2 separate regions of the Homo sapiens genome follow, and region 1 is linked to region 2. The links come from fine-mapping of genetic effects on gene expression. A gene starts in region 2. The other region holds a variant in brackets. All regions are shown on one strand. Distances are from middle to middle.

Region 1 (3,014 bases), 200 kb after region 2:
TGAAATTGGAAATCATCATTCTCAGTAAACTATCACAAGAACAAAAAACCAAACACTGCATATTCTCACTCATAGATGGGAATTGAACAATGAGAACACATGGACACAGGAAGGGGAACATCACACTCTGGGGACTGTTATGGGGTGGGGGGAGGGGGGAGGGATAGCATTGGGAGATATACCTAATGCTAGATGACGAGTTAGTGGGTGCAGCGCACCAGCATGTCACATGTATACATATGTAACTAACCTGCACATTGTGCACATGTACCCTAAAACTTAAAGTATATAATAAAAAAAATAAAATAAAAAAGAAATGTACAGTCCAATGTCATTTCTGGGTTTTTTTTAAGCCATTCACACAAAGCAATCTGATTCTCATTCATGTGTTTCTATATATGAATGTGAATATATAGGAAAGAAGTGATGGTCAGGGGGACAGTTTACTCTTACCATGGAATAGTAATTTTGTATAAAAGGACTGTAATAACATGTTAATTGTATAATTTTACATTAATACAATTAAGGTTTTAAAAATATGTGTGCAAGGCCAGGTATAGTGGCTCATGCCTGTGATCCCAGCACTTTGGGATGCTGAAGCGGGAAGATTGCTTGACCCCAGGAGTTCAAGACCAGCCTCTATGTAAAATAAGCAAGACCCAGTCTCTATGTAAAATAAAAAATTAGCCAGGTGTGATAGCACATACCTGCAGTCCCAGCTACTCAGGAGGCTGAGGTAGGAAAAGGATTGCTTGAGCCCAGGAAGTCAAGGCTGCAGTGAGTAGTGATTGTGCCACTGCACTCTAGCCTGGGTAACAGAGCAAGATCCTGTCTCAAAAAACATATGTGTATGTGTGTGTGTGTATACACACATACACACAAAATTTGGAAAACATGCAAAGAACAAAGAAGTAAATAAAATAACCTCCAATCCCACCTCAATTCCTAACTCTGGAACTCTTCCTTCCAGTGTTTTTTGGAGTCGGGGTCTGCTCAGCGTCACTCAAAGTATACCCAATCAGGCTGTCAGCTGCCCTTCTGCCCACAGGAGAGTCTGGGACCATCCAATCCAGAGAACTTCTCATCTAAATAGCACCTTGTCTCTACAAAGTCATTTGAATCACCCACCCTTTGTGATTCAAAATACTAAACAAAGTTATGAATTTTCCTATGACTGTTTCAATGCTTTTTTTAAAGCAGTAAATGTCAAAACCTTTCCAAACAAATGCTCCCCCTCCCTTTCTTTGTTTGGGCATTTGTTTTGTTATGCTTTGCCTTGTTTTGTCAGGATTTTTCATGTCCCTGTTTCTTGGTGCCCTAAACCCACATACAGTCTGCCTCTTGATTGATCCTATCTCTCCCCACCCCCAAAAAGGCTATGTTTGCAAAGACACACCCAGTTTGTCTGCCCCCACCCCGCCCCACATCTATTCCTCCTGTCTCAGTCTTGCCATTGTGTCCAGGGCAAGCTACAGAACAATGAATTCTTAGCAGATGATGGTATTGCCCTGTCCCCATGTTCTGAGCCAACCCCAGTTATGCCTGGCATCCGGGAGTCAGCGTTTTGTAGGCTTCTGTGACATTTGA[C/G]AGCTCACATCCCACTTCTTTCAGCATTTGGAGCAGGAAGGACAGAAGGCTGCTCTTGTCACCACCAATGAGCTCATCCTTCTCCGAGAGGCAATAAGAAAGCGAAATTTCACCCCATGAATCAGGAAGCCTGAATTCATGACAAGGCACACATTCCCCAGCTTCCTGACCCACCGGCTGACCTTTCCATAAAAAGGAAAACTAGACAAGGCCTCCTCCCTAGAATAAAATAACCGATCAAACAAGGATAAGACATTTTTTACTAAAACAAACCTTTCACCCCATCGACCTGAATCCTTTGATTTCTGTATACCTTTCAAGGTCAGAACACTTTCTTTTCAGTCCTCTTGGGGATGAAGTCACACATTTCCGGGAGCCTTTCCCAACTTTAGCACTTGGGGCAGCGTAACCATGAGCATGTCACTTAACCATCCCAGTTTCTTAATCTAGAAAGTTAAACTAGAACACTCATTTCTATCTTTTTGCATTGTTGAAAGGGTTCGCTCTATAATCCTAGTGCAAAATGTGCCCTCAGCATCATTCACTATCTCATAATACTGGCTGCCCAACTAGTAGATAAATAGCACCTTGGAATTCAGATTGACCCTTCTTGGCTGTGCTGTTCTTGAGAGGTTAAGTCTAGGAAGGAAGTAATAACAATGTAAGGTCAACGGCACATGTTCCAGAGAGTCAGACTGCCTGGCTTTAAACATTCTCTCCAACACCTACTGGTGGTGGAACCATGAACAATTTCTCAAGTTCTCCAAACCTTAGGTTCTTCAAATTAAAAGTAGGGAAGTGGAAATAAATAATGCTGTGTAGGGCTTTTGTGGTGAGTAAAGGAAACAATGCATACAAAGCACTTAGCACAGTGCTTTTGATAAGATTTTGATTGGAAGATGTTAGCTATTCTTACTTTGGTGGTCACTGTAGTAACATTGTGTGAGTACACTGTTGGAGATCAGAATCATTAGGGGTTCCATCCATAGTAAGATCACACATTCCCTGGAGAAGTGTCAGGTGTGGAAGATAGTCAAAGTTGGTATAGTCAGCTGTGGACTAATAAGGGCTCTTTGGATTACAAGTGTCAGATGCTCAACTCAAAACTAATATTAATGAAAAAAAGGGGATTCATTAGCTCTTTGTGGCAGGGTTGGAGTTCGCCTTGAGCATGATTGGCTCCAAAGACTCAAAGTCATTAGGGCTCTCTAACTCCTTCCCTCAGTCCTGCTTCTCTCTGTAGATTGGTCTCATTCTCTCTTTGATGGATGACTTCCTCTATGTAGCAAGTAACCCCAGAGGAAAGACAGAGCTTCTCTCTTCCAGCATGTGTGTGTGAAATCCAGGGAAAGATTGGTTTTGAGTTGAACATCTGACACTTGTAATTCAAAGAGCCCTAATTAGTCCACAGCTGACTATACCAAATT
Region 2 (2,500 bases):
TCCTTCTTGAAACTAGGTTGCTCTACTTACATGAAACAAACTGGGCAGAGGTCAACCGTGAGAGCCTGAGCCTCCCCAAGTAAACAGCAAAAGATTCCCCAGGCCCAACAGCCCCCACCCCCACCTTCAAGGAAAGTGGATCTACCCGGAGCACGTAGGCCAGAGGAGGCAGGAGAAGAGGGTCAGTCCGTGAGCTCCGGGTACCTGGAGAACATGAATCTCCCGGGTGTACTGTCCCCATGAGGGTCACCGAGGAACCTATGGATCTTCCACTCTTCGCCCAGAATGTCTTCCCTCTATCCCCTCCACCTCCCCAAATTCCAGCACCAGGGGCCACCTCAGAGCCACAAATCCTGAAAGGACCACCCAGGTGACTCGGGCCCACACACCCCTCTTTCGGGGTACACTTGGTGGCAGGCTAGCAGGCTTTTGGCCTCAGCTGGTGGTGCCATATAACCAGATTCGTCACAGAGACCCATTTTTTATCAGTCCCAGGCCAGAAGTACGAAGACTGATCTTAACGATGTGGCCTGCCTGGGAGGTAAGGCGGCAGGCGTTGCCAGAATTGATGGGAACTGTGGCACAGGTGGGAAACCTGGTTTAACAAATTCTTCATTGATTCAGGGGACCACTTTCCTTGAGCCAAGTCTTGGCAAGCGGCCGGCGAAACTCACAGGTCCCTTTCCTGGCTGCGTCCCCAGCCTCCAGCCTTCCCCGCCCCAGAGATGCCCCAGGAGCGGCCCCTCGGTGTAGGTAACGGGTGCCCGGGCGGCTCCGCTCCGCCGCCTAGAGCCTGGAAGCCGCCACTGCGGCCCAGGACAATCCGGCTACGCGGCCGGCGCCGACCCCGCACGCTGGAGTCCGCTGCCGCACGGCGCTGGCAGTCGGGGGTGGTGTCTGAAGTCAGGCGCTTCCTGCCTTTTCGTCGGCCCGGGTGCCCGGCTCGCGCCGCCAGGCTCTGGGATCCCAGGTCGCCCCGCCCAGCAGCCCGCGCCCTGCTCGGTGCGCTCAGCGTCCCCGCCCCTTACCCCAAACCCCCACCCTCTGTGCCCTCAGGGGGGCACCCCCATCGGGGCGGGAGGGGGGGGTCAGCTGTGCCCCGGTCGCCGAGTGGCGAGGAGGTGACGGTAGCCGCCTTCCTATTTCCGCCCGGCGGGCAGCGCTGCGGGGCGAGTGCCAGCAGAGAGGCGCTCGGTCCTCCCTCCGCCCTCCCGCGCCGGGGGCAGGCCCTGCCTAGTCTGCGTCTTTTTCCCCCGCACCGCGGCGCCGCTCCGCCACTCGGGCACCGCAGGTAGGGCAGGAGGCTGGAGAGCCTGCTGCCCGCCCGCCCGTAAAATGGTCCCCTCGGCTGGACAGCTCGCCCTGTTCGCTCTGGGTACGTACGCCGGCTGCGGCGCCCCCTGCGCCGCGCGACACCCTGCTTCCCCCGGTCCCCGCCGAGTTCCCCTTTCCGGGGGTTTCTGCGCCCGCCTGGGAGAGTGGAGAGAAGCGAGTAGTCTCAATGGGTTGGCGCCTGGGAGGCAAGGGGAGTCATTAAGAATGACAAAGAGGGGACTGTCCGGTCGAGCGCCGAGGCTTCCCCGGGAAAGTGGCTGCCTGGGCCGTGCGTGAGAACACCTGGGAAGGGGAAGCGGAGTGTGAACGGGCTTGAACTTTAATCCGCCGCAGCTGTGTGTCTGCTCAGACACATGCCTACACCTACCTGCTTACCTGGCTGCCTCCAAGCCCGGCTCAGCCGGCGTCGCTGGCGTGTAGACTGGGCCGCCTCGGAACGGGGGCCGGCGTCTAACCCTCTGGCCGGGTCTTGCCTGCGCCCCTTTGGCACCCCCTGCCCACCTCTAAGCCCCAGCGACGAGCAGAGATGTTCAAGATCGGCAGAGGCGCCCTCGATCTCTTTTCAGAGCTCTTGAGCTTTGGGGGTAGGTTTTGGATTTTTGGGCGGATTAATGGTTCCTTTAATTAACTTCCCTGGGAGAAGTGGTTTCGGTGTCCGCCGAGGGCAGGAGCGAAACCCTAGACCGAGTGTTGCCAGTTTCCTTTGAGTATGTCCTTGGAAATGAAGGAGGGATGGGAAAGGTGAGGGGAAGTTAAACCCCTCTCCCGGGTCGGGTCTGCGGAGCGGTGCGTTTTTTGGCGGTGAAGTTCAAGGGTCTGTCTGGACGCGGTGAGGGCGCAGCGCCGCGCGCCTCCTGGCCAATTCTTGCCCCTTGTGCTGGTGGGTCTCTCTGGTGTTGAGATAGCTGATCAATAGCGCAGGTGTCCTGGTTATTGCTAGTCTTCCGTGAAGTGAATTGTTCGTTCGATATGCCCCGAGTTTAACCCGTATAGCATGCGGCTCGCTGCAGGGTGGTTAGAGTCTGTGGAAAGCCATGGAACTCCTCCCCAGAAATGCCCAGAGCCGCAGCCTCACCCAGCTCCGTGTACAACTACAGGGGGTTCGCGGCCCCGCCTGCAAGCCTGCCCTAGAAACGCTGATTAAAAACCGCAGCAGAAGGGGAGG

Which allele goes with the higher level. Positions count from the first base shown, and alleles are read on the strand shown. Sizes are in standard deviations (SD) of each study's normalised expression.
As copies of C replace G in region 1, the expression in tibial nerve of the gene that starts at base 1,277 in region 2 goes down (small effect, 0.26 SD a copy in GTEx).

Evidence for each region.
Region 1: its variant is fine-mapped to the expression of TGFA in tibial nerve (GTEx, PIP above 0.99).

Annotation. Positions count from the first base shown.
Region 1 is chr2:70,356,475-70,359,488 of GRCh38, reverse strand. No RefSeq gene overlaps it. Among named protein-coding and RNA genes, the nearest start is that of FAM136A, 56 kb to the right of the region's middle. The variant C/G (reference allele first, on the strand shown) is at 1,588.
Region 2 is chr2:70,552,603-70,555,102 of GRCh38, reverse strand. TGFA (transforming growth factor alpha) reads left to right here and starts at 1,277. Exons shown (of 6, transcript NM_003236.4): 1 at 1,277-1,375. The coding sequence starts at 1,336. LOC124907824 (a long non-coding RNA gene) reads right to left here and starts at 2,395. Exons shown (of 2, transcript XR_007086906.1): 1 at 1,711-2,395. RefSeq lists a silencer at 1,147-1,216.